Regions from separate parts of the Homo sapiens genome. Here region 2 is linked to region 1. Evidence: fine-mapped expression QTL. Tissue or cell type: testis. Region 1 holds a variant in brackets; the other region holds the start of a gene. All regions are shown on one strand. Distances are from middle to middle.

The links. PIP is the estimated chance that this variant, and not a neighbour inherited with it, causes the effect.
Region 2: ADGRG3 starts here. The variant in region 1 is fine-mapped to the expression of ADGRG3 in testis (GTEx, PIP above 0.99).

Annotation. Positions count from the first base shown.
Region 1 is chr16:57,689,238-57,694,492 of GRCh38, forward strand. It overlaps ADGRG3 (adhesion G protein-coupled receptor G3), which reads left to right. Exons shown (of 12, transcript NM_170776.5): 12 at 1-141. Among named protein-coding and RNA genes, the nearest start is that of DRC7, 2.9 kb to the right of the region's middle. RefSeq lists enhancers at 605-714, 855-904, 955-1,004. The variant G/A (reference allele first, on the strand shown) is at 2,082.
Region 2 is chr16:57,665,487-57,670,486 of GRCh38, forward strand. ADGRG3 (adhesion G protein-coupled receptor G3) reads left to right here and starts at 2,820. Exons shown (of 12, transcript NM_170776.5): 1 at 2,820-2,919. The coding sequence starts at 2,862. It overlaps ADGRG1 (adhesion G protein-coupled receptor G1), which reads left to right. Exons shown (of 14, transcript NM_201525.4): 14 at 1-81.

The DNA of each region.
Region 1 (5,255 bases):
CCTGAGCAGAGGCTGGGCATTGCCACTAGGACCTGAGCTCCTAGAGAACAAGGACCTGGGTGGCCTCGCTTACTGTTCCAGCCCAGGCCAAGCACAGGGTCTGGCTCGTGGCAAACCTTGAATAAATATTTGTTGGCTGAATGAGTGGATGTATGAGTTTGGCACCAGCCTGGCAGATCCCTGAGCCAAGGGGGGTGTCTCAGGCCAGACCTAGGTTGGGCAGGGTACTTCCAGCAGCTGGGGCTCCATGTCACAATCGCATGCAGGTTTCTCAGTAGGAAACAAAAAGAGGCAGAGATAGCAGAGATGGGGTAGAGATACAGAGATGGAGAGAAGGAGAGAGAGACTTAACAGACAGGCTGACACAAAGAGGGAGAACGGTGGCGGAGAGACAGATGCAGAGAGATGGCAGCCCCACGCCGGCTCCAGCGACCCCCCTCCTCGGGGGGAGCAGTGAGTGTTGACATCATTCCCCTCCCTGGAGCCTCACCGCACAAGTCCATCCCTCACTCTACTCACAACTTACCAACCATTCTCCCTACCCGGCCCCCGACCCTCTCCAGGGAGCTCTGTGGACTGTCAAGCCCTGTCTGCAGGTGAGAAGTTACTGTCACTGTTAGGCCTCCCCCAACAGCCCTGGAAGCTGCGGGCTGCAGCCCACCTCCCCGTCCGGATGCTGGGTGCTGACGTTGACTGCAAATGGATGCGCTTCGCTTCCCCTCCCAGCCCACAAGCAGTTGAAAGACAGGAAGGTGGGCCCTCACTTTATGCAAGGCGCTGTGTTCCTGGAAGGGAAATTCTGGGGCGTGGACATTGCATCATTTGAGCCACAGGAGCAGTTCTGGTGGACAAACTTGGTGTGTTTTGGGGCTTATCTTCACAGACATCTGTTTCTCACACTGAAGGTCTCAACTTCCTTATCTCAAAGCCTCAGGGATGGTAACCTGAGAAACAGCTGTTCCACCATCTGATAGGTCTGGGCTTAAATCCTGGCTCGGCTACTTAGGAGCTGTGTGATCCTGGGCATTTTACTTCACCTCTCTGAGCCTCAGTTTCCCCATCCATAAAATGGGGATTATAAAGTCCTCACCTCATCCTGACAGCATTAAATGAAGTGACAGAAATAAAGTGCCCAGCACTGACTCCGCAGGAGTTAGTCAGCTCCCCCACCCTGCCTTGATTTAAAGAAAGACCAGCCAAGGGTAATGGCATGAGGAAATGGAGGTCCAGACAGGCCCAGCCACCTGCCCAACTAAGGTCACTCCATGGGCTGGGTTGAAGCTAGGGCCAGGCCTCCCCGGGTTGCCCTCATCCCAGAGTGGTCCCTGAGTTTAAGGATTATCACCTGGTCCTTGACTGGGCTTGGTGGCTCACACCTGTAGTCATAGCACTTTGGGAGGCCAAGGCAAGAGGATTGCTTGAGCCCAGGGGTTCGAGACCAGCCTGGGCAACATGGTGAAACCCCGTCTCTACTAAAATACAAAAAAAATTAGCTGGACATGGTGGCGTGCGCCTGCAGTCCCAGCTACTCAGGAGGCTGAGTCAGGAGAATTGCTTGAACCTGGGAGGTGGAGGTTGCAGTGAGCTGAGATTGTGCCACTGTACTCCAGCCTGGGCAACAGAGCAAGACTCTGTCTCTTAAAAAAAAAAAATATATCTAGGCATGGTAGCTACTTGGAAGAAGAAGCAGGAAGACCACTCGAGCCCAGCAGTTCAAGACTGCAGTGAGCTATGATGACGTAACTGCACTCCAGCCTGGATGACAAATCAAGACCATGTTTTTAAAAAAAAAAAGGAGGAGAAGAAGGAAGAGAAGGAAGGAGGAGAAGGAAGAGGAGGGAGAAGGAGGAGGAGGAGGAAGAAGGAGGGAGAAGGAGGAGGAGGAAGAAGGAGGGAGAAGGAGGAGGAGGAGGAAGAAGGAGGGAGAAGGAGGGAGAAGGAGGAGGAGGAAGCAGAAAAAAGAAGAAGAATAAGAATTATCATCTGGTCCCAGCCCCCAGTCTCAAGGAAAATCCTGGGTTGCAGAGTTTCCCAAACTGCTTAGTGGGATGCTTAGTGCTTGTTGTGGGACCAACAAGACC[G/A]CAAGTCCTGGATGGCTGGGCCTCCTGGCTCAGAAGGAGAGGGCAGATAAGAAGGTGTGGCTAGCATTGGGGGTGCACTGCTTTTCTGGCTTGCTCTCCATCCTGGGGCTAGGCAGGGGCTGAGGGGCTGGAGTTCCTCATCACCTGCGGTTCCTGCAAAAGCAGCTCCAAGTGCCATGTTGAGCACCCATAAGGCCAAGGGGGCTATGGTGAAAATACACCCCAAAGCCCAGAGCAGATGGATGGAGTTCCTCCGTCATTGCACAGCAGCAATAGCAACCTAGGAGGTGGGCCATCATCACAGGTGGGAGCACAGACCCTGATCTCCGTTCACCAGTTTCAAATTCTGTCTTTGCAACTTGTCTTGGGCAAATTCTTCAACTACTGAGCCTGTAAAGCAGAAACAGCAGTAGCTGCCCCACAGGGTTAATGAAGGAAATGAATAAATGAGACAGTGCCTGCAAGGACTGCCCACTGCCTGGCCTGCCTGGCCCAGAATGAATGTGACAAAGCCAGAGCTTTGCCTTGGCCATCATCTCATCAGGTCCTGGGTACAGAGAGGGTCCCTTCTGCCATGGCTCCTGCCTGGTTCTCTCTTCTGCCCAAATCTCTTCATTCCTTGTATTTTTTCATTACAACATAACAAATACACAGGAAAAAAGAAGACTTATTTGCTCCATGCTGTCAGATAGGCAACACTAAAAGATATAAATCCTTCATCAGTTAATGAATTCAATGAAATTACAGTAAAGATTTTGGGGCGGGCACGGTGGCTCACATCTCTAATTTCAGCACTTTGGGAGGCTGAAGCAGGAGGATTGCTTGAGCCCAGGAGTTCCAGAACAGCCTGTGCAACATAGCAAGACCCTGTCTCTACAATAAAATAAAATAAGGGAAAAAAATAAATATTCTAATTTATTTTTTTTTGCTTCTCCAGAAACTTTTAAAATTGATATGGAGGCATATAGACCTCAAATAGCTAAGTCAATCTTAATGAAAGAGGGCATACAGGAGGTGGAGGTTGCAGTGAGTCGAGATCATGCCTGTGCACTCTAGCCTGGGCGACAGAGCTAGACCCTGTCTCAGAAAGAAAAAACAGAAAGAGGGGCATAGAAGGAAGACTTGACCTCTAGACATAAAGATATTACAAGGCCAGTTTGGTAAATGCAACGTGGTGTCTGTGCAGGGATAGGAAAGAAGATCAGTGGAACAGCACAGAGTGCTCAGAGGCAGACCCATGGACACCTGGGGGATTTAATACGTGACAAAGGTGGCATCATTATTTTCAGAGGAGGAAATACCTAAAACTAACACATTAGTTCATGAAGACACATTTAAAATCATTAGTCATCAGAGAGCTGCAGACTGAAATGACAATGAGACCTCATTGTATCCTTATTAAACTGATGAACTAGAAAGCTAGATGGTACCAATGGGCAGGGACGATATGGGAGCCAGGGAGAGTCTAGACTGCTTCAGCTGCCTGGAGAAAAACACAGTGCTTCTGCTGAGCCAGCAATCTTGCTACTGGTTGTTTATCTTGAAGAAACATTCTTCCAGATCTAGACCCCTCTAGACCTGTGTAGCATTGTCTGTGATGGAAGGGAGCTGGTAGCAAATCTGAGTGGTCTGTCCAGCCCACCCAATGTCTGCTGGGGAGTTCCCTCAAGACTGCCCCAAACCGTCAAGAGGTAGGGCCAGTTGGAATTCCAAAGAAATAAACACTAAGCGCCGGGGTGATCCGTATCCATCCAAAGCATTTATTAGGGAAACGTACATAGGGAAGGCTGTAGTGTTCTCATGACAGACAGCAAGAAGGGAGATGAGTCTGTTCATAACGAGGAGGTGGGTTTATGGAGTTTATATGAGTGTTTAAGGGATTCGGTTCAGGGCTGGGGCACGTTTAGCATTTGTTTGATCTTTCCATGTTTCCAGCAACAACCTAAACAACTATCAGTGCCTGGGGACATTGAAAGCTCCCTCTAGAACACCTGGACACCGAGTGCCCGTCACTGGAAGGACGAAGAGGTAATAAGTGTGGATCCACACAATAACGTGGAGAGATCTTAAAAACACAGCCCTTCATGAAAATATAAGAACCAGAAGGATATATTTGTTCAGTCTCATATTAAACATATATTAAAAACACCAGCATGCCAAACAATACTCATTTTGGAAAAAAAAAATACACATCAGAATGGTTACTTTATAGAGGTGGGAAATGAAAGTGGGTATGAAGAGAAAAAGGAATGAATAAATATGTAAAAGGAATGAAGTGTTGCATAGGGTTGAAAAAGGACAATGAAGCCTATGCTGCATCCCACTAGCATAACGCATCACCTGTTTTCCTTTCTCCTCCCTCCTCCCTTCCTGCCTTCATCCCAGCCAGTTCCCCACAGAGGTAATTACGAGTTGCTTAGCACCAAGTCTGAAATACTACACACACTGTCTCGTGAGCTCTCCACAGTGCAATTGATCCTTTAGCACCAAGTCTGAAATACTACACACACTGTCTCGTGAGCTCTCCACAGTGCAATTGATCCTTTACAGCTTATTTTTATGGCTGCATGATATTCCAGCTGGGAGGGGGAACATCATTCTCTATTCATGAGAATTGAGGCAATTCCTAAGTTTCTAGCAGTAACACTAACTGTGCAAACTTGTCAGCACAGTGACAGTCTGGATTCCCTCCTGGCAGCCCTATCCCCTGACCAAAAAAGGCCCATGCACCCCTCCCTCCAAAAATAAAACAGTGAAGATTATATTTTAGGACTGTATTGGTAAAAACACAGATATAATTCAGGGCAGATTCACACTTATATAGTCATTATTATTCTCATTTTTTTCTTCTGAATTTAAAAGAAATTAAACATTTTCATGAGCCACTAGCCTAATGGATAGGTTTTCCCCGTACTTCGAGGTAATGTTCTACATCACAGCTCCGGCCTGGACTAGAACCCAGGACTCAGTCAAGGCAGCCTGGTTCTGTCCACCGCAGCTGGCAGCTACTCCAGGCCCCACACTGGTTTCTGTCTGTCTCGATCAAGGCCACATTCGGCATGCCGTGGGGCAGGGGCTGTGCTGTGCTGGTAAATGTTTAACAACTGGCTGGCTCAGAGGAAAAGCCCTGGTCTTGGCGTTTGCTAATTTTTGTGGTGTAAATAACCCCATGGC
Region 2 (5,000 bases), 24 kb before region 1:
TCCTGGGATTTATGCAACCAGTTTACTGATCACTCTGCAGCAGGTGGGCTGCAAGAATTAAATCACTGGACTTCTCTCCCATCCCTGCCTTTAACCTTGTTCCACCAAATCAATCTCTCCTCCCGCTCCTAAGGCCCAGGTGAGGCAGATCACGCAGGTTCCCATCTTCCCTGTGATGAGGGCAGTCACAACGGATCATTGCTACTGTGTTCAGGTAAGAGGTCCCAGTGCAGCCAAAGTCCTCCCCAAGGCCCACAGTCCACTCTCTCCCTTCTGCAGGCTCCTCCCTCCTCCCCTGGCCACTCTAGGGGGATGCCCAGCAGGGGAAGAGGCTCAGAGTCTTGGATTGGACAAGGTGGGTGTGAGGCAGCTGGGTCTAGACTGGCAGTGCCCTCTGAGGGGCGTGAATGTGGGATCTTGGGACCTGCAGGGACCAAGAACCCCTGTGCCCTGCTGCTCTCCCAGCCCTCCCTCCACCCCCTCCACTCCCTCCACTGACCTCTGTCCCCACCTTTCTGCAGGTGGGGGGCTCCTCTTATGCCCCCAGCTCCAAAGGACAGAGGCCAAACCTTCCCAAGCCTCCCCTACCCCAGTGTCCGGATTGGGCAGCCCCGGGGGATCAAAGCCAGCTTCCCTCCTTACAGGCTTCTAGGTCTCCGTGAGGGGGGTCTCTCAGAGCCCCATGGCTGGGCTAGGTCCTGGGATGGGGGTTGAGGCAACTCCCCCCATCTTCCAGAATGGGGGGGAAATGACCCAGCCCCGTTCCTCCGCAATTCTCCTGCTTCTCAAACATTTTGTTTCTGCATCTGAGGCTGGCTCAGGTAGTGGGGAGGGGTCTTGGGTTGGGTCTCACCTTCTCAGGTAGGCCCTGCACAGGGCACCAACAGTTCCATGCTGATCCTTTTACCCCGATGGTTATTATCATGCACTTTCCCAGGCTGTGGGGCTTTGGACAGTGGGATCGCCCTTTCTGCCAGCATGTGGCCAGGCGTGCATCTGGAAACATCCCTTTAGCTTGGGAAATGGATTGGAGCAGCTGAGGGCTGAATGCTGGCTGGGTCTCGCTGGAGGACTTGAGGCCCTGCCCACTGGAGCCATTGGGAGAAGCTGGGGCAGGAGGCGGCAGGAAGGGACACTACTGTTTTGTTGGCCCTGGGGTTGGGGGGGGTCTCAGGGTTCTGTGAGTGGCTCCAGGCTAGTCCCTGGTCCCCAGGGGGCGTTTCAGGGAAGGGGCCTTAGGAAAAGGTGGCCCTCCTTCCAGCCCTGCCTGACCTTCCCCTGCACCTGCCCTCTGCCCACTTCCCAGGTGGGCTGGCTGCTCGGAATCTCAGTCTGCTCACCCCCAGGCGCTTCTTCACACACTGGTACCTGCGAGCCTCTCTGAGGGCCCAGGTGCCAGGATGGGGCTTCAGCGATGGGCCCAGCACATCCAAGTCCACTGCCCCACCTCACCCTCACCTGCAGCTGGGAGGGAGGTCTGCAGATCTTCCAGGAGAAGGCTGGCCAGGTGTGGAGCAGTGGCAGGCCCAGCCATTCATCTGCCTTCGCAGCCCTCCCTGCAGAGGAAGTTTCTGGGGCTCAGGAAGCCCTGGGCTCTGACCTGCTGCTCCATGCTGAATTCCCACCTGCTCCCACACCATGAGTGACCCTGACATCCCCTCCCTACCCCTTCCCAGACCCAGAGGGCTCAGCAGGAGACACTGAGTGGGAGGAGGAGGAAATGGAGGCCAGCAGGGGCTGAGCGGCTCCCCAGTTCAATCCCAAGGCTGAGTAGGGCTAGTGCCAGCCCCGTGGGCCAGAGGGGGATGCCAGCAACCACACACCTTGGTGGGATGCCCTTCACCTTCCAATTGCCAAGTGGCCATGGCCTCATGCACAGTGCATCCGTGGGGCCTCCAGAGTTGGCCCGAGTGGCTGGCGCCCTAATTCCTTTAGGCTGAAGCCCAGGAGTGTTTGCCACCCCCACCTCCCACCTGATCAGTGACCATTTGGGGTGTAAAGACAACAATTTCACAGCTCTGATGATCAGAAATGATGTAATGGCCACAGGCGGCTCCGCCTGCGTCATCCATGATTTCATCACACACCTCGGGAGGCTCAGGGTGACAGACAGTGCATGCAAGGTCACCCGGCCAGGAAGTGGCCAGGATGGATGTTAGCTCAGGCCTGACCAGCCCCCGGGGCCGCACTGCTGTCTTCCCGCTACCCTGCCTCTGGGTCCGTCCTGTTATCCAGGCTGGTGGGGGAAGCTCAGGCTGCAGGGCCAGCTCCTGCTCTCCTCCCACACCCTCCAGCCTGGTTCAAGCCATAGGCACCATCTGGGTCTTCGTCCTCATGCCCAGAGCCAGGCTCTGTGCCCAGCTTGTTGCAGGTCTCATCAAACCCTGACACAGCCTTAGGAGGCAGCCCCATTGCCATCTTCACTTTACAGAGGAGGAAACTGAGGCTCAGAGAGGCTCCCAGCTTGTGAGAGGAGGGGTCTGAGTAGGTGCGCCTGACTCCAAAGCCTGTGCTCACCACAGTTCCCAGGGATCCGCTCTGAGCCAGGCCCCTGTGGCCACCCAGCCCCTAGCCCCGTAGATCCCACCCCAGTGGGGCCCCGGGGGCACATACCTGGGTGGGCTCAGCAGCTCCCTCTGCAGGTGGACCCAGGGTGCGGTGAGACTGGGAGCACTGCCCAGTTCCCCACACTCACCTTTCACAACCCAACCAATGGCGCCATCGAGCAGGAAGGGTGAGAAAGAGGACACAGGAAGCCAGAGTGGTGGGGCTGCAGGGTGGGGGCAGGCCAGCTCAGCAGAGCCTGGGGCCAGAGGGCCAGACAGCCACAGAGCTCCTGGCGTGGGCAAGGCTGGCCAAGGATGGCGACGCCCAGGGGCCTGGGGGCCCTGCTCCTGCTCCTCCTGCTCCCGACCTCAGGTGAGTGGCTGGCACCTCATCCCCTCCTGCCACGCTGGGCCGACCCTGCCCTGCCGAGGGAGGGATCCAGGGACAGACGCAGGGACTGGAGAAGGTGAGGAGTTGGGGTGTCTGGGATGTGTCCTCCGATACCCCCCGTGGCCGCCTCAGCACCTTCTCTAGCCCTGTCCCTTTGGGTCAGTCCTGTCCTTCCACTAAACCTTGCTCAGGACTGGTCTCAGGTTCCCTTTGTTGCTCCACAGTGCCCTGGAGATAGGGGAGGTCGGAGGGTGCTCCCTGACTCCCCAACCTGGGCTGTGTCTCCCTGACAGGCCTGGCTCTGAGACAGGGGTTGGCCCCGGGCAGGCAATTCTCCAGCTGGCTTGTGAGATCCTGGGGACGGGATTCAGACACTCTGGAAGCTGAGGCCAGGAAGGTCTGTCACCTCGTTCTTCTGGACCTCTCCTCCCGCACATGTCACCCCACACCGGCTCCCTCTCCCAGTCTCAGCCACAACCTCTTGGTCCTCAGTGGCCTGAGCCAGGATCCACACTCCTCCCCGTCACTCTCCCGTCTCACACACAAACACATGGTGCGTCTCCAGAGGCCATGGAAGTGCCCGGGCCTTGCCTTTGCTGGCCTCTCTCCCAGGAAAGCTGTCCCCCTACCCCTTGCCCACTTAGCCAGCTCCATTTACCCTTCTTGGCCTCTGTGGCGTCTTAGCAACCCTCTCGGACAGAGGGAGGTGCTCCCCCGTTAGTGCTCCCTCCTCAGTGCTCCTGTCTCAGGGCCTTGCAGGCCACTCTCTTTTTGCTCCTGACTCGGTGAGGGGCCTGCATGTCCATCTCCCTGTGTGTCCAGCGTGTGGTCGCGTGACTTTGGCCACATAGATCAACTTATTTGGTCTTCAAATAACCCTCTTCTTTTCAAACATTGGAAGATTCAGTGGAGTGAATCAGTCCCTGGCTCAAAAAAGGGTGGGAGATGACAGCACTGTCCTCCTAGTGGCCCCGGGAGGCCCTGGTACAGAGCAGGCCACCAGGCAGCCCTTGATAGATGAATGAACGGAGCCACCGATGGCAGCTGTGACCAGGGCTCATGGGCGTCCTCAGGTCCCAGCTGTCATCGCTGGTTGGGCCTTCAAGCCTCCTCCAGGTGATGCTGTTTCCCCCATGGTGATGTGGGTGCTCTGGTTGGGGCAGAGCAGCAGCCATTTGATTGAGCAAGGAGCTCTGAGAGGTCTACACACAGGAAGGTCTGCACACTTCCTGTGTGGACAGTGATGTGTTAGTCTCCATTCTCCATTTGCGCATTCATTCATTCATTCATTCATTCAGGAAGCATCGATGGTGCCCTCTGCTCCTGCTGGTACCACTTGGCCCCTGCCCTCAAAAGGCTCACAGTCTGCAGGAGTGACACAGTGTGGTGGGGGCTCGCATGTGAGACCCAGCTGTTAGGGCTGAGCAAGGGGTGGATGCAATGGAGGGCCTGGCATGAAGGGACACGTGACAAAGGTGCGGGCAGGGCACGGGGAGCAAGGAGGGTGGTCACTGGGCAGGCTGGCACCTGGGGCAGCCTTCAGCACCGTGAGGTCTAAAGGGGCCAGGAGGGAGTGGCCCCCTGGGCTTCTACAGCCAGACTGTGGCTACAGGAGGGAAATGGCGGTGGTTTGCTCACGGTGAGCCAGCAGGGGCTGAAGGAGCCATGCGGGGTGGGGGCAAATGCCCACTCTGCCCTCCTCCTGCCCTCTGACCTCCAGTCCACTTTCCACTTGCTGACCCCCAAATGAGGCAGTCCATGGAGGCCAGGCTCTGGAGCATAGAGGGTCTGGAGAGGAGGGGAGTGCTATCCCACCCACAGGCCTAGCACAGGGTCTCCTTGTCTACATGAAATGCTTGCAGTGTCTTCAAAGAATAAACACAGAAAAGATATTTAATGATCCTGTCTGTGTAGGGTGCTTGCCAAGAGCTTCACTTACATGCCTGCGCTGAAATTCATGGCAATCCGGGAGGGAGGCCTGCACCTGGACCCATTCATGACAGCAGGGCCGGGATGGCAGAGAATGGCACCCGTCCTCAAGCTGACAATGTTATCTCCCCTCC